7 linked regions of the Homo sapiens genome follow. The protein of the gene in region 1 purifies or fractionates together with the protein of each later gene. This does not show direct contact. Each region holds a gene or a part of one and is shown in the gene's direction. Other genes may lie near its edges.

Evidence for each region.
Region 2: the proteins of UBR7 (region 1) and NASP purify together in Homo sapiens (affinity purification with western blotting; one study listed by BioGRID). This does not show direct contact.
Region 3: the proteins of UBR7 (region 1) and VPS33A fractionate together in Homo sapiens (co-fractionation; one large-scale study listed by BioGRID). This does not show direct contact.
Region 4: the proteins of UBR7 (region 1) and COLGALT1 fractionate together in Homo sapiens (co-fractionation; one large-scale study listed by BioGRID). This does not show direct contact.
Region 5: the proteins of UBR7 (region 1) and PYGB fractionate together in Homo sapiens (co-fractionation; one large-scale study listed by BioGRID). This does not show direct contact.
Region 6: the proteins of UBR7 (region 1) and FKBP9 fractionate together in Homo sapiens (co-fractionation; one large-scale study listed by BioGRID). This does not show direct contact.
Region 7: the proteins of UBR7 (region 1) and ZSCAN10 purify together in Homo sapiens (affinity purification with mass spectrometry, with the first as the bait; one large-scale study listed by BioGRID). This does not show direct contact.

The regions. Positions count from the first base shown.
Region 1 is NC_000014.9:93,220,756-93,224,255, forward strand, and holds part of UBR7 (putative E3 ubiquitin-protein ligase UBR7), read left to right. Parts: intron 1-1,557; coding exon 1,558-1,619; intron 1,620-2,793; exon of another isoform or gene 2,794-3,420; intron 3,421-3,500. UniProt on the Homo sapiens protein: E3 ubiquitin-protein ligase which is a component of the N-end rule pathway. Recognizes and binds to proteins bearing specific N-terminal residues that are destabilizing according to the N-end rule, leading to their ubiquitination and subsequent degradation.
Region 2 is NC_000001.11:45,617,217-45,619,393, forward strand, and holds the end of NASP (nuclear autoantigenic sperm protein), read left to right. Parts: intron 1-246; coding exon 247-375; intron 376-844; coding exon 845-925; 3' UTR 926-1,677; downstream 1,678-2,177. UniProt on the Homo sapiens protein: Component of the histone chaperone network. Binds and stabilizes histone H3-H4 not bound to chromatin to maintain a soluble reservoir and modulate degradation by chaperone-mediated autophagy.
Region 3 is NC_000012.12:122,249,495-122,252,994, reverse strand, and holds part of VPS33A (vacuolar protein sorting-associated protein 33A), read left to right. Parts: exon of another isoform or gene 1-133; intron 134-1,895; coding exon 1,896-2,012; intron 2,013-2,949; coding exon 2,950-3,124; intron 3,125-3,500.
Region 4 is NC_000019.10:17,565,649-17,569,148, forward strand, and holds part of COLGALT1 (procollagen galactosyltransferase 1 precursor), read left to right. Parts: intron 1-1,757; coding exon 1,758-1,892; intron 1,893-2,860; coding exon 2,861-3,065; intron 3,066-3,500. UniProt on the Homo sapiens protein: Beta-galactosyltransferase that transfers beta-galactose to hydroxylysine residues of type I collagen. By acting on collagen glycosylation, facilitates the formation of collagen triple helix. Also involved in the biosynthesis of collagen type IV.
Region 5 is NC_000020.11:25,295,799-25,298,512, forward strand, and holds the end of PYGB (glycogen phosphorylase, brain form), read left to right. Parts: intron 1-571; coding exon 572-724; 3' UTR 725-2,214; downstream 2,215-2,714. UniProt on the Homo sapiens protein: Glycogen phosphorylase that regulates glycogen mobilization. Phosphorylase is an important allosteric enzyme in carbohydrate metabolism. Enzymes from different sources differ in their regulatory mechanisms and in their natural substrates.
Region 6 is NC_000007.14:32,977,940-32,981,439, forward strand, and holds part of FKBP9 (peptidyl-prolyl cis-trans isomerase FKBP9 isoform 1 precursor), read left to right. Parts: intron 1-1,517; exon of another isoform or gene 1,518-1,637; coding exon of another isoform or gene 1,638-1,644; intron 1,645-2,424; coding exon 2,425-2,614; intron 2,615-3,500. UniProt on the Homo sapiens protein: PPIases accelerate the folding of proteins during protein synthesis.
Region 7 is NC_000016.10:3,089,295-3,092,794, reverse strand, and holds part of ZSCAN10 (zinc finger and SCAN domain-containing protein 10), read left to right. Parts: coding exon 1-253; intron 254-478; coding exon 479-746; intron 747-966; coding exon 967-1,031; intron 1,032-1,197; coding exon 1,198-1,255; intron 1,256-2,148; coding exon 2,149-3,500. UniProt on the Homo sapiens protein: Embryonic stem (ES) cell-specific transcription factor required to maintain ES cell pluripotency. Can both activate and /or repress expression of target genes, depending on the context. Specifically binds the 5'-[GA]CGCNNGCG[CT]-3' DNA consensus sequence.

The DNA.
Region 1 (3,500 bases):
CAGTGGTTCACAGGAAACCACTAGAGGAGAAAATACCCCCAAACCCTTGATTGAAGGCTTTTACATCCCCCCACCACCACCCAGCTGCAGCAGGCCAAACTTATTTCAGTGGTTTCTATCCCAGCCATTTCCACTTGGATGCCACCACTTTTATGTGACTTTTATAGCATCAGTCATTTCTGTCTTTTATTATTTATTTATTTATTTTGAGACAGGGTCTTGCTCTGTTGCCCAGGCTGGAGTGCAATGGTGCATTCTCAGCTCACTGCAACCTCTGCTGCCCAGGCTCAAGTGATTCTCCTGCCTCAGTCTCTCAAGTAGCTGTGACCACAGACGCATGCCACTGCGCCCCCCCAATTTTTTTTTTTTTTTTGAGATGGAGTCTCACTCTGTCACCCAGGCTGGAGTGCAGTGGCGCGATCTCGGCTCACTGCAACCTCTGCCTCCCAGGTTCAAGTGATTCTCCTGCCTCAGCCTCCCAAGTAGCTGGGATTACAGGCACCTGCCACCATGCTTGGCTAATTTACTTTGTATTTTTAGTAGAGACAAGGTTTTACCATGTTGGCCAAGCTGGTTTCGAACTTCTGACCTCAGGTGATCTACCTGCCTTGGCCTCCCAAAGTACTGGGATTACAGGCATGAGCCACCATGCCCAGTCCCCACTAATTTTTGTATTTTTAGTAGAGTCAGGGTTTCACCATGTCACCCAGGCTGGTCTCGAACTCCCGAGCTGAGGTGATCCACCTGCCTCAGCCTCCCAAAGTGCTGGGATTACAGGTGCAAGCCACTGCACCTGGCCGTGTCTTTTATTTATAATTATTAATTTCTTTTTGCCTTTATTAGAGTAAAAACTTTTCAAGGATAGAGGATGCACCTAAAAGATACTTGTAGCCCTCAAGGTACCTTGTACATAATATAAACTGTTAAGTGAGTCAGTTTGCTTGGGCTGGGCGCCATGGCTCACGCCTGTAATCCCAGCACTTTGGGAGGCCAAGGCAGGTGGATCACCTGAGGTCAGGAGTTCAAGACCAGCCTGGCTGACGTGGTGAAACCCTGTCTCTACTAAAAATATAAAAAAGTAGCCAGGCATGGTGGCGCGTGCCTGTAGTCCCAGCTACTCGGGAGGCGGAGGTTGCAGTGAGCCGAGATCGTGCCACTGCATTCCAGCCTGGGTGACAGAGTGAGACTCCATCTCAAAAAATAAAATAAATTAAATTAAATTAAATATTCAACAAGTCCAAGGTTATTTCAGCTACCAGAATTCCAGAGAAATAGGAAGCCCTTTTAAAAATTCTTAATCTTTATGGGATTAGGATATCTCTGCTTTTTATGCTTTTTAAAAAATTTTGCTTTTTTTTTTTTTAATGAAAAAGGGTCTCATATCAACATGGTAGACGTACAGATAATTTGGGAACGAGTTTCTATGCAGCTTTCACTTAAGAAAATTTTTATTTAGACTACATTATTAACAGACTCAGGTGTCAATGGCAAAGAATATTTTGTTTTTGAAAGCAAATGGTTTATCTAAACTTAAATACTTTTGTGGTTTTGATTTAGAATACAATGATTTGAAGACTGAACTTAAAGACTATCTCAAGAGATTTGCTGATGAAGGCACGGTATGTTGAGTTAAAGAATTCTAATCATAGCCCTGTAAGTTTTGAATGAAGGGTTTATTTCCTTTGACGATTAAAAATGACTGCGACTGGCGGGGTGCGGTGGCTCACACCTGTAATCCCAGTACTTTGGGAGGCCAATGTGGGTGGATCACAAGGTCAGGAGTTCAAGACCAGCCTAGCCAATATGGTGAAACCCCATCTCTACTAAAAATACGAAAATTAGCCAGGCGTGGTGATGGGCGCCTGTAGTCCCAGCTACTAGGGAGGCTGAGGCAGGAGACTCACTTGAACCCAGGAGGCGGAGGTTGTAGTGAGCCGAGAACACGCCACTGCACCCCAGCCTGGGCGACAGAGCAAGACCCTATTTCAAAAAAAAAAAAATGACTGCGACTTAAGTGGGTACTTGAGAGTTGAATTCAGGGACTGTTTTGAGCAAATTGGCAGGCTAAGGGGAATGAATAAGAGGTAGTGAAACATCAGAGTTACATTGGCAGTCCTTACCAACCCCAGCTAAGCCGGGAAGAATGATGGGAGGGCGCAGTCCCACAGCCTCTGAGAGAGTACTTGTAGCTTAGCAGAAGGTCATTGGAAGGAATCCGCAGTACTGATTCTGCTGGTCCTGACCTTGAAGCATGGATCTTTGGGACGGGGAGGGGAAAATGACTGGACAGGAAAAATTAACACCAGACCCAGTTTCTGGAATTCTAAGTTCCATGGTTTAGAATAGAAACTGGGCATGGTGGCCGGGTGCAGTGGCTCACGCCTTAATCCCAGCACTTTAGGAGGCTGAGGTGGGTGGATCACCTGAGGTCAGGAGTTCAAGACCAGCCTGGCCAACATGGTGAAACCTTGTCTCTACAAAAATACACAAATTAGCTGGGTATGAGGGCGGGTGCCTGTAATCCCAGCTACTCCGAGGCTGAGGCAGGAGAAACGCTTGAACCCCACAGGTGGAGGTTGCAGTGAGCCAAGATTGTGCTATTGCACTCCAGCCTGGGTGACAGAGCAAGACTCCATCTCAAAAAAAAAAAAAAAAAAAAGAACTGGGCATGGCGGCTTGTACCTGTAGTTTCAGCTACTTGGGAGGCTGGCTTGAGCCCTGCTTTCTTAGAAGATGTCATCTCTGTCTACCTACTTTAGGTCATTTTTTCCTTTTTTTTCTTTTTTGGGGTGGGGGGCGTTCCTGAGTTTATTTGGGGCACACCCGGGCGAGGGCCCTGCCCCTAGAAGAACGTGTTGGGCCTCTTGGTGGTGAAGCGTGGCTTGGGCTGACGGGCAGGACCCGGTGGGGCAGCGGGAAACTTGATCTTGGAGTCGTGGAACTGCTTGATGGCCGGCCGGCTGGCGGCACTTGCTGGCTGCGATCTCCTTCACCTTCAGGATCTCGATGGAATGGGCCCAGGTGCGGTGCCAGGCGCCCATAGACCTCTCGGTAGCACTGGGTAACAGCGCCCGCGGTGGTCAGGTCCCGGTATTCCCGGTACATGTTGGGGGCGCCGCTCCGGGAGTCATAGCTCAGCCAGATGCCGAAGTTCTTGACCCGCGGTGGGGACTTCTCAAACACCTGCCCACAGTAGACAATCTCCCCTGAAGACTTCTTCATCTTTTTTAACTGAGATACGAAGTACCAGAAGTCCCGGGACTTGGCGACAACGTGATTAGGCGCAAAGATTCGCATGTGGTAGAGGGGCGGTGTGTGGCATTTGGGGGTGGGCAGGCAGTGACCCACCACCTTGTACTCTCATAGTGTGCCCGAGGCCTTCATGGCGTCCTCTCCGCGCTCGCCACCACCCGCAAAAGGTTAGGTCGTTTTTTTCTTTGTCATAGATGTGGGAAGAACATTTAACTGCCTGAATTTCTGGACAGGGTCACAGTGCTGCC
Region 2 (2,177 bases), on another chromosome or scaffold:
CATCTCCTCACCCCAACCCTATCTCCCTGTGCTTCCGGTAGAGGGGCCTGAAGTGATATGGTGGGACAGATTAATACATTCTGAGAGTACAGGTTGGCATCTGCCTGTGGCTAGGGAGAGAGACCCTTAGAGCTGTGAATCCTGATGTTCAGGATCTTTGCACCACAAGGGTTAAGGAAATGTTTTGCAGTTGTCTTTTTAAAAACATTAAGCACATTTGTGAAGCCTTCACAATTATATCTTTAGAGGAAACCAGAGGAAGAGAGTCCCCGGAAAGATGATGCAAAGAAAGCCAAACAAGAGCCGGAGGTGAACGGAGGCAGTGGGGATGCTGTCCCCAGTGGAAATGAAGTTTCGGAAAACATGGAGGAGGAGGTGGGCAGTTAAGCAGGGCTTAGCCTCTTGCCTCATTCCTTGTTCTCAGGACCTGGGGAAATCAGTCCTCTCAAGTGCATGCTCCCCACCTTGAGCCTGCTAACGATTGTTGAGTGCAGTCCTCACAGAAAACGGTACTTGTGCAGGAAAACAGTTTGGTTATGGGAGTATAGGATGACTCACTGACAAATGGAACCTGTATATTATAGGTCCCTCGATGAATATATGAGAAGGCACTTGATGGGCAAAACCATTAGGTCACTTCCTTCCACGTGATGATTATTGGCTCTGTCAGCCCCATTATCACAGAGTATTCAAGAAATACTTTGTGGTCACTGCCCTCTTAATATAGGGAGCAAAGCAGAGTTTGGGTGACTTGTATATGCTTCCTATGACTGAGGCCTCAGTTATATAAGACAGAATGGCTTAAACTAGGCTCACTCATGCCCAGGTTCTGTTTGTCTTCCAGGCTGAGAATCAGGCTGAAAGCCGGGCAGCAGTGGAGGGGACAGTGGAGGCTGGAGCTACAGTTGAAAGCACTGCATGTTAAGAGGGGGCACAGCCCTCCTCCCAAGGGAAAGTGTTTTTGTATATAATGTATTTTTTCACTTTTGGAGGATTCTTTTTGTATAACTTCAATAAAGATTGTAAGCAAAGGTTGAGGCTTTGATGGTTTTTTTCTTAATTATTGGCTGAATCTGCCTTGGAGCACTGCTGGTTTTATATATTAGCCAAAGGTTTTGTTCTGGCCTTCTGTACTGATCTGTGTTCCTGATCCTAATTCCTATCTGTCTAACGTGGAGGTGATCAAGTGTGGCTGTAGGCCTTTGTTTTCCAATGGTGCTATATTCTGTTTTCAAACACTTCACTGAACCCAGCTGTCTTGCAAACTTTCAGTGGTGCTGTCCCTGGATGGGGGCTACAAAAACAAGAATTGGTGAAGATCTTGCTCTTCAGTGCTGAAAATGGATGATGGACTTTGGCTGTGAGCCAGGCCTAGGATGGTTCTTGTCCTATATCCACCTAGTCTTCACCTGGGGCTATAATTCTGTCCTGGAAAAAGAACTCTGAAAACCTGGGTCAGGGGAATGATTCCTAAGGAAAACGGTCTGCATTTGAGCTCTGGTTTGAAAGTAGCCAAGGGGACTGATGGTGGACACTCCAGATGTGGTTGGAAGCATATGTGGGGAGGCTGGCTGGTTGAGTTTTGTTATTTTCTGTATAGAAAGGTTGAGATATATCAACACTTGGAATTGTTACCCATCTGCAGAATTGACTTCTCAAATAAAGATGCTAAAAATCTCCTTGTCTGGAATTATGTTTAAAGATCTTAAGTGGGGTCTTAGGCTGCTTTTTTGAGATGGGATCTTGCTCTTGTCGCCCAGGCTGGAGTGCAGTGGCGTGATCTCGGCTCACTGCAACCTCTGTCTCCTGGGTTCAAGAGATTATCCTGCCTCAGGAGGCTCCCAAGTAGCCAGCACTACAGGCTAATTTTTGTATTTTTGGTGGAGACGAGGTTTCACCATGTTGGCCAGGCTGGTCTCGAACTCCTGACCTAAAGTGATCTGCCCACTTTGGCCTCAGGAAGTGTTAGGATTACAGGCGTGAGCCACTTCACCTGACTGCCTGGAGCATTTCTGTGTGCGATAGAGGGTTTCAAAGGCAGAAACGAGCCCACCAGTCCAAGGATGCTGGTGGTGAGGGCACTAGTATTAATGTTAGACCTGTTGTGCTCTCACTGGTGTCTAGGGGTCAGGGCTCACTTGAGACTGAACTGCCTCTGACCTGACTCTAAGTACCAG
Region 3 (3,500 bases), on another chromosome or scaffold:
TGTGGACAGCAGGGACATGTTGGGTTGGTAGGGGTGGAGGGAATTGATAAAATGTACCATATTGACTTATGAGTGGATAATGGTTGTAAAAAAACCTAAATAATTCCAAATAAAAGCTAACTGTTACTGAGCATTTGCTGTATGTTTCAGGTACTGGGATTAAATGCTTTACATGTATTTTTCTCATTTAATACTTGCCCTATGTGGACTATACTCCCTTCTACATATGAATAAATTGAGGCACAAAGAGATTCTCTAACTGGCCCAGGGCACAGCTAGTAAGTGACACAGTTGGATTCAGAACAAGGCAATCTGAGTCTAGAACCTGTGTTTTGATCCACCTGTATCAAAAGTGACTGCTTCCCTCCTCTCACCTCACAGGTGGTTTTTTTCTCTCTCTCTTTTTTTTTTAAAGAGATGGGGTCGGCTGGGCGCGGTGGCTCACGCCTGTAATCCCAGCACTTTGGGAGGCCGAGGTGGGCGGATCACGAGGTCAGGAGATCGAGACCATCAGGGCTAACATGGTGAAACCCCGTCTCTACTAAGAAATACAAAAAAATTAGCCAGGCGTGGTGGCGGGCGCCTGTAGTCCCAGCTACTTGGGAGGCTGAGGCAGGAGAATGGTGTGAACCCAGTAGGTGGAGCTTGCAGTGAGCCGAGATCGCGCCACTGCACTCCAGCCAGGGCGACAGAGCGAGACTCCATCTCAAAAAAAAAATAAAAATAAAAATAAAAAAAGAGATGGGGTCTTGCTCTGTTGCCCAGAGGGGAGTGTGGCGGTGCGAACATAGCTCATTGCAGCCTCAAATCCCTGGGCTCCGGTGATCCTCCTGCCTTACCCTCCTGAGTAGCTCAGATACAGATGCATGCTACTATCCCTGGCTAATTATTTAATTTTTTATAGATACAGGGTCTCACTATGTTGCCCAGTCTGGTCTCAAACTCAAGAGCTCAAGCAATCCTCCTATCTCAGCCTCCCAAAGTGCTGTGATTACAGCCATGAGCCACTGCACCTAGCCTTCCCAGGTGGTTTTGTGTGTATTTTGGAGATTCTTTTTTCTTTTTTTTTTTTTTATACTTTAAGTTCTAGGGTACATGTGCACAACATGCAGGTTTGTTACATATGTATACATGTGCCATGTTGGTGTGCTGCACCCATTAACTCATCATTTACATTAGGTATATCTCCTAATGCTATCCCTCCCCCCTTCCCCCACCCCACGACAGGCCCTGGTGTGTGATGTTCCCCTTCCTGTGTCCAAGTGTTCTCATTGTTCAATTCCCACCTATGAGTGAGAACATGCGGTGTTTGTTTTTTTGTCCTTGTGATAGTTTGCTGAGTTGGAGGTCCTTTTTTCAATGCAAAAATATATATTTTTTATAAAATGAGATCATACTCAACAGATTGTGGCCTTCAGTTGTCAGTTGTCATGAAAATCTGCCTCATCCTTTTTGAAAACAATAAAGTATTCGTCCTGTGGTCTTTTGCATTTCTGGGTATTAGCATGTCGCTCTCCCAGCATGTCCTACCAGAGTTTACTCTCACCAGTGAATGGGAACCCATCGTTCAGTGTAAGTCTGTATTCTTCCGTCTTTTATTTAAGAGCTGATTCAGAAGAGCTGGCATGCTGGGTGAACAGTTTTCTCCCAGAAGCCCCGGCTCTGCCCAGGAGAGGTGCTTCCACGGCTGCACCCACCCTGGGGCTGCCAGCCTCAGCGCCTGGTCTGACAGGCAGCAGTTTTGGAAAATGAACTTGAGTCCCCAATTTTCCTGGCACAGTGTGAAATAACTGGAAATGATTTTATTGTCTGTCGCTGCACCCCAGCCCCAGGAACAGAGATGGGCCCCTGGGAGGCCCCCATGGCCTGGCAATAATTGGCCTTTTCCCTCACAGGAGTGCTACCTGGAGGGTGACCAGACGAGCCTGTACCACGCAGCCAAGGGGCTGATGACCCTGCAAGCTCTGTATGGAACGATCCCCCAGATCTTTGGGAAAGGAGAATGCGCTCGGGTGAGAACCGGCTGCTTTGTGGTGGTAAAGGAGGGCCCTTCACACCCCAAAAGGGAGGAGGAACGGGAAGCTCCTTACAAACAAATTCAGTTGATCTTAATTATTTATGAATACTGTACTCATGAATTTGCCTACTGATTAAAATGCACTTATAACCCTCCAAGTCAGTACTCATGGTGCTTTTGTCGGCGTGCACAGTGGTGACAGTTTGAGTAACCACTGCGCATGTTCCCAACTGAGGCAGCTGACACTCCACCTTCCCATTTCAGCTCTCAGACTGCAAACAAGTGTACTTTTCACAGTCTCACTGTCATATTTTCCACACGTGTGTACTTTTTTTGGTGATTTCACTGTTTAAAATGGCCTGCAAATGTAGGACTGAGGTGCAGTCGGGTGTCTTGTGCACAAGAAGGCTGTGGTGTGCCTGGCGGAGACATTACGTGTGTCAGAGACGCTTCGTTCAGGCACGAGTCACAGAGCTGCTGGCTGTCAGTTCAGTGTGAGTGATCAACAATTATGTTAAGTCAGGCATCTTTAAGCAGAAACACATATAAAACTGGGTTACGTATTGATCAATTGACAGAAACGTTGAGACCAGAGGCTCCCAGGAACCTAAGTCTGCGTTTCTCCTAGGAACAGTGGTTCCATCTTCGCTAATTTAGTGTTTGCAGTGACTTCATAGAACATAACTACTGCGAATCACAAGAATAGACTGACCTGATTTTATGCCTCATTGGCAAATGGCAGCTGCCTTGGTGCAAGTGTCGGGATGGGTGCCAACAGCAAGGTGCTTTTCTAGAGCTGCTTATTTCTAAGCAATGCACTCTTCCAGTTTTTCTCCTTTTTTACTTTTTTGATTGTCTTTCTGGTTTTAGACAAATTTTAAAATCTGCTTGTTCCCAGGGGGGCCCCACCTCATCCAATGTTTTGTTTCCAGCAAGTGGCCAATATGATGATCAGGATGAAGAGAGAGTTTACAGGAAGCCAGAATTCAATATTTCCTGTTTTTGATAATCTCTTGTTGCTTGATCGGAATGTGGATTTATTAACACCTCTTGCCACTCAGCTGACATATGAAGGACTCATTGATGAAATTTATGGCATTCAGAACAGTAAGTACATGACATCTGTTTTCACTAATAGGTAATATGAGAAGAATATCCTTTGTGGAGGCTACTGTTTGTATATTGCACACTTAAGCATAATTTAAAGTCAGAGATCCGATTTTAATGATTCAGAGTGTAGATTAATACAGACCTTTTTGTAAGCAATTTAGCAACACATAAAACTTTTCTAACCCTTGGCCAAAGAAAACCCAAAGCCTAAGAATGTGCCTTGAGGAATCATTCCAAAAAAGAGGATCAGTGAGGTTTGCATAAGAATTTCGATTTCCATTTTCTTACCAGAATTTTCCAAACAATCTCAGTGGTTGAGTACATTATGAAATATTATGGAACCACCTGGGTGTGGTGGCTCACACTTGTAATT
Region 4 (3,500 bases), on another chromosome or scaffold:
GACTGAGCAAGACTCTGTCTCAAAAACAAACAAACAAACAAAGAAGCTGTTTGAGTCCTTTCTTTCAATTCTCTTGGTTCATACCTAGGAATGGAATTCCTGGATCATGTAGTAATTCTATGTTTAGCTTTTTGAGGAACTGCCACAGTGATCTGGCTGTTTGTTCTGCATTAATATTCAAAGGTCACAGATTCAAACATCCAGAGGGACCGGATGGGGTGTGTAACATGACCACAGGGCTTGTCCTAAGACCCAGCCACCTCCCCTCTGCAACTGAAGGTTGCCATGTGGAAATGGTATTCTCACGTTGCCAGGGGATACTGGAATTCTAGTTTTTGTTGTTGTTCATGGCAGTTAATCCAAATATTCTAAACGATACTGCCTGGGTAACAGAAAGCATCTCTGTGGACCAGCAGTAAAAGAAAAAAAATCCAGACCGGGCACAATGGCTCACACCTGTAATCCCAGCACTTTGGGAGGCCGAGGCAGGCGTATCACTTGAAATCAAGAGTTCGAGACCAGCCTGGCCAACCTGGTGAAACCCCATCTCTACCAAAAAATACAAAAATTAGCCTGACGTGGTGGCATGTGTCTGTAATCCCAGCTACTTGGGAGACTCAGGGAGAATTGCTTGAACATGGGAGGTGGAGGTTGCAGTGAGCCGAGATCACGCCGCTGCACTCCAGCCTATGCAACAGGAGACGCCATCTCAAAAAAACAAAAACAAAAACAAAAAACCTTCTGGTAGTTCTGTGATATATCATGACTTCTGTGTCTTTACATCCTGGTAGAGGGGGAACGTCCGGACCTAATCATTTTCTATGTGTGATTTTATATATATATATTTAATTTTAGTCTAGGTGCAGTGGCTCAGACCTGTAATCTCAGAACTATTGTAGGCCATGGGGAGGATCGCTTTGAGCCCAGGAGTTCAAAACCACCCTAGGCAATGTAGAGGGATCCTATCTCTACAAACATAAAAATAAAAATGAAAACATTATCTAGGCATGGTGACGTGTGCCTGTACGCTCAGCTACTTGAGAGGCTGAGATGAGAGGATCACTTGAGCCCAGAAACTCCAGGCTGCAGTGGGCTACGATTACACCATTGCACTTCAGCCTGAGTGACACAGCAAGATGCTATCCCTTTAAAAAATAAAAAATGAAGAAAAAGTAAAATAGTAGGCCAGGCATGGTGGCTCATGCCTGTAATCCCAGCACTTTGAGAGGCCGAGGTGGACGAATCACATGAGGTCAGGAGTTTAAAACCAGCCTGGCCAACATGATGGTACCCTGTCTCTATTAAAAATACAAAAAGTTACCCGGGTGTGATGGTGCACGGCTGTAGTCGCAGCTACTCGGGAGGCTGAGACAGGAGAATCGCTTGAACCCAGGAGGCGGAGGTTGCAGCGAGCTGAGACCATACCACTGCACTCCAGCCTGGGTGACAGAGCGAGACTCCGTCTCAAAAAAAAAAAGGTTTTGCTACCTTCTTGCTCATTGGTTGTTCATTTATTTCTCAGGGCTATCTCAGTGCCTAGAATTTTCTTTGAAGGAACTGAAGACCTTTGCTTTATTTCCATGATCCAGGGGATCCTGCAGGCCCCCAAAACGGGGTCCCTGCTTCATTTCATCCGGTGTAGGGGGTGCTTCCAGAGGTCTTTGCCAGACCCCCAGGGCACTGGCCTTTGCCCCAGCTGTTCTGAATGGTAGCCTGACCTGGCAGCCCATGCTGATGCTTTGTGGGGTGTTCTGCAGTTTGTAGATGCGGACAACCTGATCCTCAACCCTGACACACTGAGCCTGCTCATCGCTGAGAACAAGACGGTGGTCGCCCCCATGCTGGATTCCCGGGCTGCGTACTCCAACTTCTGGTGTGGAATGACTTCCCAGGTAGAGTGAGGGCCTGGGGACTGTGGGGACTGGGCTGAGCAGGGGGGTGCCGTGGCTAGAGTGTAACTTACTGTCACACAACCTCGTGGTGTGTGTTTTACAAAAATCATCATGGAAGCTGGGCACGGTGGCTCACACCTGTAACCCCAGCACTTTGGGAGACTGCGGCAGGCGGGTTGCCTGAGCTCAGGAGTTTGAGACCATCCTGGGCAACATGGTGAAACCCCATCTCTACTAAAAAAAAAAAAAATTACAGAAATTAGCCGGGTATGGTGGCACATGCCTGTCCTCCCAGCTGCTCGGGAGGCTGAAGCATGAGAATCACTTGAACCCAGGAGGCGGAAGTTGCAGTGAGCCGAGATCACGCCACTGCACTCCAGCCTGGGTGACGGAGTGAGACTTGGTCTCAAAAACAAAACAAAACAAAAACTCATTATGGTAATCTTTAAACAGCCCTCTGAGGCCAGACAGGAGGGAAGAATAGAGGGTCCTTGATTGTCCCCCACCATGCTATTCCAGAGGTGGAAACAGAAACACAGAGAGGAAGTGACTTGCCTAAAGTCACACAGCTAGCAAGTGGTGGTGTCAGGATGGGACTTCAGGCATGGCTTGATCCAGGTGTTTGGATAACTGTCTTTCTCCATCCTTTGGGTGGGTTCATTCTCAGACAGCTTGAGAGTGATCCCAGCAGCGTCTAGCCATCATCCATTCTGATTGGGCCATTGCTAGTCTCCTCTCCACACTACCTCTGAACTCATTACTGAAGCTGGGAAAATACAAGGCTCTTTCTTATTGGCCATGCCTGGCCACAGGTCCCACACTGGGCTTGAGTCTGGGGTCCTGGGACCACAGGCGCACACTGCTGTGCCTGGCTGTCTGTCTGGTCCTGTTTCATGCCGCCCACTATCACGGGTCTCCATCCTCACCTTTCAAGACCCCTACGCGGAACTCTCGCTCTCTCCCCACAGGGCTACTACAAGCGCACACCTGCCTACATCCCTATCCGCAAGCGAGACCGCCGGGGCTGCTTTGCAGTTCCCATGGTGCACTCGACCTTCCTGATCGACCTGCGGAAGGCGGCGTCCAGGAACCTGGCCTTCTACCCACCTCACCCTGACTACACCTGGTCCTTTGACGACATCATCGTCTTTGCCTTCTCCTGCAAGCAGGCAGGTACGTACATGAGGGGTCTGCCATCGCAGGGGCATCTGCCTGGTTCTTTGGGTTTTGCACTAAGCCAGTTCAGAACACACTGAAGATTCACAGAACCCAAACAATGCAGCGCAGGGCTGACTTCAGGTGCAGCTGTATCTAGGTGTTCAGATAATGTCTCCAGGACCCCGTTTCTCTCCAGCCCTGGCTTTGCTGGTTAGCTTCATTCCCTAGCTCTTTAAGATCTATTGGTTGGTCAGGCAGAGTGGCTTATGCCTGTAATCCCAACAATTTGGCAGGCTAAGGCGGGTGGATCATTTGAGGTCAGGAGTTTGAGACCAGCCTGGCCAACATGGTGAAACCCCATCTCTACTAAAAATACAAAAATTAGCCGGACGTGGTGGTGCTACTGGGGAGGCTGAGGCGGGAGGATCACTTGAATATGGGAGGCGGAAG
Region 5 (2,714 bases), on another chromosome or scaffold:
CTGTCATCAGTCGGCTGTGCCTGCCTTTAGGGAAGCTGTCACTGTCAATGTCACTCCCTCCGTTGAAAAAAACAGCTCCTAATGGCCAAGAAAGGAATGTGCGGCCTGGAAACTGAGTGACGGGCAGGGCCCTGGGAGGGACCTTCTCTTCCCTCAGTCAGGGCTGGCCTCGAGGAAAGGCTGGCCTGGTGTGACCTGCAGCTTGTGGCAGCTGTGAGGCTCCCTGGTGGAAGGAGACTGCCTGGGCATGTCCCCTGGCACTGGATCTGCCTGGGCAGTTCTTACCTGGTGCTATCCCTATCGTCGTCCTGGGGGCCATGCCCTAGCAGGAATTTTCGAGGCTGGGACCTTCTCTCCAGCTCCTTGCTCCCTAGATCTAGAATGCGGTAGCTTTCCTGGTCCGTGGGGTCCCCTTTTCAACGAACAAGTGATTGTAATGTCCTCCTCTTCCAGCGGATGGCCCCAAGGCTCGGAGCTCATTTGGAAACAGTCCTAAAGTTCTGGAATCCCATGTTTTTAGCAGCCCCAAGCCCTGTGACGCCAGAGACTAATTTCATCTCCTTCCCTGCAGAACCCCAAGGAGTGGACCAAGAAGGTCATCAGGAACATCGCCTGCTCGGGCAAGTTCTCCAGTGACCGGACCATCACGGAGTATGCACGGGAGATCTGGGGTGTGGAGCCCTCCGACCTGCAGATCCCGCCCCCCAACATCCCCCGGGACTAGGCACACCCTGCCTTGGCGGGACCAGCGGGCATTTGTTTTCTTGCTGACTTTGCACCTCCTTTTTTCCCCAAACACTTTGCCAGCCACTGGTGGTCCCTGCTTTTCTGAGTACCATGTTTCCAGGAGGGGCCATGGGGGTCAGGGTGGTTTTGAGAGAGCAGGGTAAGGAAGGAATGTGCTAGAAGTGCTCCTAGTTTCTTGTAAAGGAAGCCAGAGTTGACAGTACAAAGGGTCGTGGCCAGCCCTGCAGCTTCAGCACCTGCCCCACCCAGAGTGGGAGTCAGGTGGAGCCACCTGCTGGGCTCCCCCAGAACTTTGCACACATCTTGCTATGTATTAGCCGATGTCTTTAGTGTTGAGCCTCTGGATTCTGGGGTCTGGGCCAGTGGCCATAGTGAAGCCTGGGAATGAGTGTTACTGCAGCATCTGGGCTGCCAGCCACAGGGAAGGGCCAAGCCCCATGTAGCCCCAGTCATCCTGCCCAGCCCTGCCTCCTGGCCATGCCGGGAGGGGTCGGATCCTCTAGGCATCGCCTTCACAGCCCCCTGCCCCCTGCCCTCTGTCCTGGCTCTGCACCTGGTATATGGGTCATGGACCCAGATGGGGCTTTCCCTTTGTAGCCATCCAATGGGCATTGTGTGGGTGCTTGGAACCCGGGATGACTGAGGGGGACACTGGAGTGGGTGCTTGTGTCTGCTGTCTCAGAGGCCTTGGTCAGGATGAAGTTGGCTGACACAGCTTAGCTTGGTTTTGCTTATTCAAAAGAGAAAATAACTACACATGGAAATGAAACTAGCTGAAGCCTTTTCTTGTTTTAGCAACTGAAAATTGTACTTGGTCACTTTTGTGCTTGAGGAGGCCCATTTTCTGCCTGGCAGGGGGCAGGTCTGTGCCCTCCCGCTGACTCCTGCTGTGTCCTGAGGTGCATTTCCTGTTGTACACACAAGGGCCAGGCTCCATTCTCCCTCCCTTTCCACCAGTGCCACAGCCTCGTCTGGAAAAAGGACCAGGGGTCCCGGAGGAACCCATTTGTGCTCTGCTTGGACAGCAGGCCTGGCACTGGGAGGTGGGGGTGAGCCCCTCACAGCCTTGCCCCTCCCCAAGGCTGGCAACCTGCCTCCCATTGCCCAAGAGAGAGGGCAGGGAACAGGCTACTGTCCTTCCCTGTGGAATTGCCGAGAAATCTAGCACCTTGCATGCTGGATCTGGGCTGCGGGGAGGCTCTTTTTCTCCCTGGCCTCCAGTGCCCACCAGGAGGATCTGCGCACGGTGCACAGCCCACCAGAGCACTACAGCCTTTTATTGAGTGGGGCAAGTGCTGGGCTGTGGTCGTGCCCTGACAGCATCTTCCCCAGGCAGCGGCTCTGTGGAGGAGGCCATACTCCCCTAGTTGGCCACTGGGGCCACCACCCTGACCACCACTGTGCCCCTCATTGTTACTGCCTTGTGAGATAAAAACTGATTAAACCTTTGTGGCTGTGGTTGGCTGACATGGGGTCTGTGTTTCACTAACTAACTAACTAACTGCAGGTGGTGGTATGAGACTGTGGGAAGCAGAGAACACAGGCCTGAGGCCCAGGGTGGTGCCAGTGCAGGGATGAGACCTGCAAGTGGGCCACAGGTCCCCCGTCTGAAACTAGAGCCGGGGCTGAATTACACCCCATCATTCTGGGATTGAGGGCAGAAAAGTTTGCATCTCCACTAGGTGTGGAACCCGGGGTCATGTGTGCCTGAACGGCTAGTTTTGTTTTTTTGTTTTTGAGATGGAGTTTTGCTTTTGTTGCCCAGGCTGGAGTGCAGTGGCACGGTCTTGGCTCGCTGCAACCTCCGCCTCCTGGGTTCAAGCAATTCTCCTGCCTCAGCCTCCCGAGTAGCTGGCATTACAGGCGCCCACCACCACACCCGGCTAATTTGTGTATTTTTAGTTTTGCCATGTTGGCCAGGCTGGTCTCAAACTCCTGACCTCAGGTGATCCGCCCGCCTCAGCCTC
Region 6 (3,500 bases), on another chromosome or scaffold:
GAGACAGAGTCTCACTCTGTTGCCCAGGCTGGAGTGCAGTGGTGCGATCTCGGCTCACTGCAACCTCTATCTCCTGGATTCAAGAGATTCTCCTGCCTCAGCCTCCTGGGTAGCTTGGACTACAGGCGTATGCAACCATGCCTGGCAGATTTTTGTATTTTTAGTAGAGACAGCATTTCGCCATGTTGGCCAGACTTGTCTCAAACTGCTGAGGTCAAGCCATCCATCCACCTCGGCCTCCCAAAGTGCTGGGATTACAGGTGTGAACCACTGTGCCTGGCCCACTTTTATATATTTTACATGCTGGGGATCTGCAGATGGTTTCTTAAACAGAGCATTAGGGGTGGAATTCCCTACTAAAAGAAAAATAAAGTTTAAAGCAGTGCCATAAATATGTCTTAATTCTCCCCCCCACTGAGATATAAGATACTGTTATTATTATTTTTAGAGACAGGGTCTCACTCTGTCACCCAGACTGGAGTGACACCATCATAGCTCACTGTAACCTCAAACTCCTGGGTGATCCTCCTGCCTCAGCCTTCCGAATAGTTAGGAGTACAGACGTGTGCCACCATGCTTGGCTAGTTAAAAAAGTTTTTTTAGAGACAGTGTCTCGCTACGTTACCCAGGCTTACCTGGAAATCCTGGACTCAAGCGATCCTCCCACCTCAGCCTCCCAAAGCGCTGGGATTACGGGTGGGAGCCACTGTGCCTGGCAGTTACTGTTTTCTTATTGATGTTCAAATGGTCTTGTCCTTGGCCCCAAGAAGTTCATTCACGTTGGCTCCCAGATCCTTTTGTCATCAGCCACATAACAAAACCAGATGTGAGCCTAATATGAGAAATATTATTTCTTTACTTTAAATAAATAATAGCTTATTTAGAGTAGTTATTTTTGAATACTTTATACTTGAATACTGTGCTCGGCTATCCAAGTATAACTTTAAATGGGTGAACTGTATGGTATGTGAATTATATCTCTGCAAAGTTGCTATAGAAAACATTATTCATTTAGTACACATTAATGCTAGAAAAATTGAAACCCCAGGCCGGGCGCAGTGGCTGCCGCCTGTAATCCCAGCACTTTGGGAGGCTGATTTGGGTGGATCGCCTGAGGTCGGGAGTTCAAGACCAGCCTGGCCAGCATGGGGAAACCCCGTCTCTACTAAAAATACAAAATTTAGCCAGGCGTGGTGGCAGGTGCCTGTAATCCCAGCTACTCGGGAAGCTGAGGCAGGAGAATCGCTTGAACCCAGGAGGCGAAGGTTGCAGTGAGCCAAGATTGAGCTATTACACTCCAGCCTGGGCAACAGAGCGAGACTCCGTCTCAAGAAAAAAAAAAAGAAAAGAAAAATTTAAACCCCATGGTTACTTTTAAGGCTTTCATTTTTCTCTTAAATGAAAAGATACAGTAAGGCACAAAAGATTAATATTCTATCTCCCACGCATGCGATTTAGGGATTGACCACACCTTGCATTCCAGGGGCTGACTCAGCAGCCGGCTTTCAGCAGATTTCATCATTCCTTGGATGGGAAGGAGATGCAGGGTGGGCTTTGCCAAAGGCCAGTGGAAGGAGCTCAGGCTTGGCGGCATCTGGTTTGCTTGTCTGGGCCTACTCCTTTGCATGATATAACAAATGGCAGGTAAAACTGAGGGATTGGTTTGTTGGTTAACTTTCTACTATCCCAAATTACTGGATTTTGAGTTATTTATTGGTTGATGTTGATCTTTGCAGGAAGAACTAGTGTCCTGTAATCTCTTCATGTGGATTTCATTTTGCAGATATTCAAAATATTCCCACTGGCAGGAACATCCAAGAGAAGCAGTACTACCCAGAAGTGAGATAGAAGTGATTTGAGGACTATTTATTTATATTTTGGATTGTGGGTGCCATTTTTTTCTCTGTTATTCTGCTTTCATCTTATTTATATCTTGCTTTGGATATACTTAAAGCATTGAGTTTTACTTTTTGCCTCTAAAAAATTGGCCGTTCGTTTCAAAGAACAAGTCTGTGTACAGTTCTCCAGAACCAGACCAGAGATTTGGAATTTTCTCCTTTAAATGTCTGTGGTTTGCATTTATTCACAAACAGAAACCCACAGAGGTATGTATTTGGGTTTGCCTGTGGGTGCCTGCCCACCTACATAAAGCCTTGATTTTCCAGCATGAGTCCAGAAAATATGGTCATGGTAGTCTCTTATGTCATTAATACCAATTTTCTCCTTTTGCTGAGTCAGGTTTTAGATTATACCATCAGCCCATGGTTGGACACCATGGGGGCCCATTCAAGACCTGGAAGAACATTTGTTTCCTTGGCTTCAAAACCTCAAGAAATGAATAACACCAACCCCAAGCCTGTTGAGTTGTAAAGTACTTCCTAAATCCTGTGTCCCGTTTAATCATCTTCTCCCATTCCATTCTAGGGAAAGACATTCCCGGTCAGGCATCTCTGGTGTTTGATGTTGCATTATTGGACCTCCATAACCCCAAGGACAGCATTTCCATTGAGAACAAGGTAGTACCTGAAAACTGTGAGCGGATAAGTCAAAGTGGGGACTTTCTCAGGTATCATTACAATGGCACGCTTCTGGATGGCACCCTCTTTGATTCCAGGTAAGGAAATGATTAAAGTCTTCAATTGCCAGAACATTGTATTAAATAAAGTCTGCCATTGGCTGGACCATGATTTAAATACTCTGTCCATGCTGATTTGTAGTTGGCATTTTCATCTCTAATACAAGTTTCTGTTTTCTGATACTTAGTTCTTTCCTCCCTTCCTTCCTTCCTTTCTTTCTTTCTTTTTTTTTGAGACGGGGTCTCGTTCTGTCATCCAGTGTGGAGTGCAGTGCAGCTGCATGATCGTGGCTTTCTGCAGCCTTGAACTCCTGGGCTCAAGCAATTCTCTCATCTCAGCCTCCTTAGTAGCTAGGACGATAGGCGTGTGCCACCATGCTTGGCTAATGTTTTATTTTTTGTAGAGATGGGCTTAAGTTTCTTCATAGGCTCTTGTAACCATTTCTTTCTTGGGGGCTGTTTTAGATGGTTCTGCAGGAAGACAGGAGAGACTCACCCTCGACTCCCACCATCCCCCTATACTGTGCTTAGTTATCCAGTTATAAACCTCATTATGGGGCCCAAGATGAGGAGTGGCCAGAAGTGATGTCAAGGAGGTACAGTGGGCAGAGAATGGGCTTAATGCCAAGAGAGCTGGGCTCTAGCCCCTGTCTGTGGTGCACTAGCTGTATGACTTTGGATAGTGTTTGACTGCCTTGGACTTCATTTTTCCCTATTCCAGCAACTTTGTCAAGTAGGTGGTTAGATTAAAGAGATAAGGTATGTGTCACAGTGCTTTACAAATTTCAGAGGCTGATCAGCTGGACGGCACTGGTTGGATGCATTCAGCTCCCTTCTGGATGCTGGGTGCCATAGAGGCTAATTACTGGCCTCTTTTGTTGTTCAAAGTTTTGTTTTGTTTATCAGCCATGGCCTGCAATTGTAG
Region 7 (3,500 bases), on another chromosome or scaffold:
ATGCTTCCAGTATCAGGAGGACATGGGGCCACGGGCGTCCCTGAGCCGGCTCCGGGAGCTCTGCGGCCACTGGCTGCGGCCGGCTCTGCACACCAAGAAACAGATCCTGGAGCTGCTGGTGCTGGAGCAGTTCCTGAGTGTGCTGCCTCCGCACCTCCTGGGCCGCCTGCAGGGGCAGCCGCTCAGGGATGGGGAGGAGGTGGTGCTGCTGCTCGAGGGCATCCACCGGGAGCCCAGCCACGCGGGGCCGCTGGTGAGAGGGTGGGGCAGCGGGCTGAGCAGCATGCGGATGATGGGGACTTGATCCCCCCAGTGAGGAATCTCTGGAAACTTCACTTTCCCCCACCTGACCATTCCTTCTTCACCTCCTAACTCCTCCCCTGGCTGACTCTAACCTCGTTTCTGTCCCATGTCCCCTCGGAGTCAGGACACAGGTTGCCACCCCGGGAGTCACTTAACTTGAATGTGTTTTGAACAGGATTTTAGTTGTAATGCTGGCAAGAGTTGTCCCCGTGCAGACGTCACCTTGGAGGAAAAGGGGTGTGCTTCCCAGGTCCCCAGCCACAGCCCCAAGAAGGAATTGCCTGCGGAAGAGCCTTCAGTGCTGGGCCCATCGGATGAGCCTCCCCGACCCCAGCCAAGGGCTGCCCAGCCTGCTGAGCCGGGACAGTGGAGGCTTCCCCCAAGTTCAAAGCAGCCGCTGAGCCCGGGGCCCCAGAAGACATTCCAGGCCCTGCAAGAAAGCAGTGAGGAGCTTGTGCCCTAGGAGGCCAAGGACTGGGTGTCGCGGAGGGGCCTGGATGTCTGGGGTGGGGTGAGAAGTGGGGCCTCCCCAGGTGACCAGGACAGGAGAGCGCCAAGGTGTCTTCACAGGGCCCGGATGATGCGGTGTGTGTCCTTGCAGCCATATGGCAGGCAGGGCTGCCTTCTAACAGCACTTCCTCCCCTCTTCCCCAATGCCGTCAGGTCCCCAGGGCCCCTCACCATGGCCAGAGGAGAGTTCCCGAGATCAGGAGCTGGCGGCTGTGCTGGTGAGCTGGGCCGCACCCCAGGGTGTCCTCAAGCCCCAGGAACTTCTCTACCCTGTAGTTTTAGCAAATCCATACCTTCCCTGATTCAGTCCTAGGAAGCATTTCAGTCCCCACAGGTTCCTGAGGCATGTTCCTCACTCACCAAGGGTTTCTGCTCTTGATACAGGAGTGCCTGACCTTTGAGGATGTGCCAGAGAATAAGGCGTGGCCTGCACACCCCCTGGGTAAGCAACCCTTCCCTGGAGAAGTGACCACTGATGCCTCTTTCTTTTCTTGTCTTTTTTAAAGAGATGGAATCTCGCTATGTTGCCCAGGCTAGTCTCCACTCCTGGGCTCAAGTGATCCTCCCACCTCAGCCTCCCAAAGTACTAGGATTACAGGCATGAGCCACCGTGACCGGCCAACACCTCTTTCTTTGCCTGAAGCTCCAGACCCTACCTGACTTTTTGGCCTTTTTGTTTTTTGAAACAGGATGTTACTCGCCCAGACTGTGGCACAATCATGGCTCACTGCAGCCGGGACCTCCTGGGCTCAGGTAATCCTCCCACCTCAGCCTCCCGAGTAGCTGGGACTATAGGTGTGTGCCACCACGCCCAGCTAACTTTTTGTAGAGAGGTCAAATAAAAGGGCACCCTTGTTTGACCTCCACCCTCTCTACCAACCTACCAGGTTTTTTTGTTTGTTTGTTTGTTTTCAGACAGAGTCTCACTGTGTTGCCTAGGCTGGAGTGCAGTGGAACCATCTCCGCTCACTGCAACCTCCGCCTCCCGGGTTCAATCGATTCTCCTGCCTCAGCCTCCCGAGTAGCTGGGACCACAGGCATGCGCCACTACACCCAGCTAATTTTTGTTTTGGTTTTTTTTTTTTTTTTTTGTAGAGACGGGGCTTCACCATGTTGGCCAGGGTGGTCTTGAACTCACTCCTGACTTCAAGTGATCCGCCCGCCTCGGGCTCCCAAAGTGCTGAAATTACAGGCGTGAACCACTGTGCCCGGCCTTTTACCTACCAGCTTTGCAGGATCCTGGGTTTCTTTCCACTTCCAGGCCAATCAGGTTCTGGTGATTGATAGTGGCCCTGGGAATAGGCCTGACCGTCCCTGTTTTGTCTTGTTTCCCAGGATTCGGAAGCAGAACCCCAGACAAGGAGGAATTTAAACAAGAAGAGCCCAAAGGGGCTGCCTGGCCCACTCCCATCTTAGCAGAGTCCCAGGCAGATAGTCCTGGGGTGCCGGGAGAGCCTTGCGCCCAGTCGCTCGGACGGGGCGCTGCGGCTAGCGGCCCTGGTGAAGATGGGTCCCTTCTTGGCAGCAGTGAAATTTTGGAGGTCAAAGTGGCTGAGGGCGTCCCCGAGCCCAATCCGGAGTTGCAGTTCATCTGCGCGGACTGCGGGGTGAGCTTCCCGCAGCTGTCTCGCCTGAAGGCGCACCAGCTGCGCTCGCACCCGGCTGGGCGCTCCTTCCTGTGCCTTTGCTGCGGGAAGAGCTTCGGCCGCAGCTCCATTCTCAAGCTGCACATGCGCACTCACACGGACGAGCGGCCGCACGCCTGCCACCTGTGCGGCCACCGCTTCCGCCAGAGCTCGCACCTGAGCAAGCACCTGCTGACCCACTCCTCCGAACCCGCCTTCCTGTGCGCAGAGTGCGGCCGCGGCTTCCAGCGCCGCGCCAGCCTTGTGCAGCACCTGCTGGCGCACGCCCAGGACCAGAAGCCGCCCTGCGCTCCTGAGAGTAAGGCCGAAGCGCCGCCACTGACCGATGTCCTGTGCTCCCACTGCGGCCAGAGCTTCCAGCGCCGCTCCAGCCTCAAGCGCCACCTGCGGATCCACGCCAGGGACAAGGACCGCCGGTCCTCCGAAGGCTCCGGCAGCCGCCGCCGGGACTCCGACCGGAGGCCCTTCGTGTGCAGCGACTGCGGCAAGGCCTTCCGGCGCAGCGAGCACCTGGTGGCCCACCGGAGGGTGCACACGGGCGAGCGGCCCTTCTCCTGCCAGGCTTGCGGCCGCAGCTTCACGCAGAGCTCGCAGCTGGTCAGCCACCAACGGGTGCACACGGGCGAGAAGCCCTACGCCTGTCCGCAGTGCGGGAAGCGCTTTGTGCGCCGGGCCAGCCTTGCCCGCCACCTGCTGACCCACGGTGGCCCTCGGCCCCACCACTGCACCCAGTGCGGGAAGAGTTTCGGCCAGACCCAGGATCTGGCCCGCCACCAGCGCAGCCACACGGGCGAGAAGCCCTGCCGCTGCAGCGAGTGCGGTGAGGGCTTCAGCCAGAGCGCCCACCTGGCGCGCCACCAGCGCATCCACACAGGGGAGAAGCCCCACGCCTGCGACACCTGCGGCCACCGTTTCCGCAATAGCTCCAACCTGGCCCGCCATCGCCGCAGCCACACGGGCGAGCGGCCCTACAGCTGTCAGACGTGCGGTCGCAGCTTCCGGCGCAACGCGCATCTGCGGCGGCACCTGGCTACCCATGCG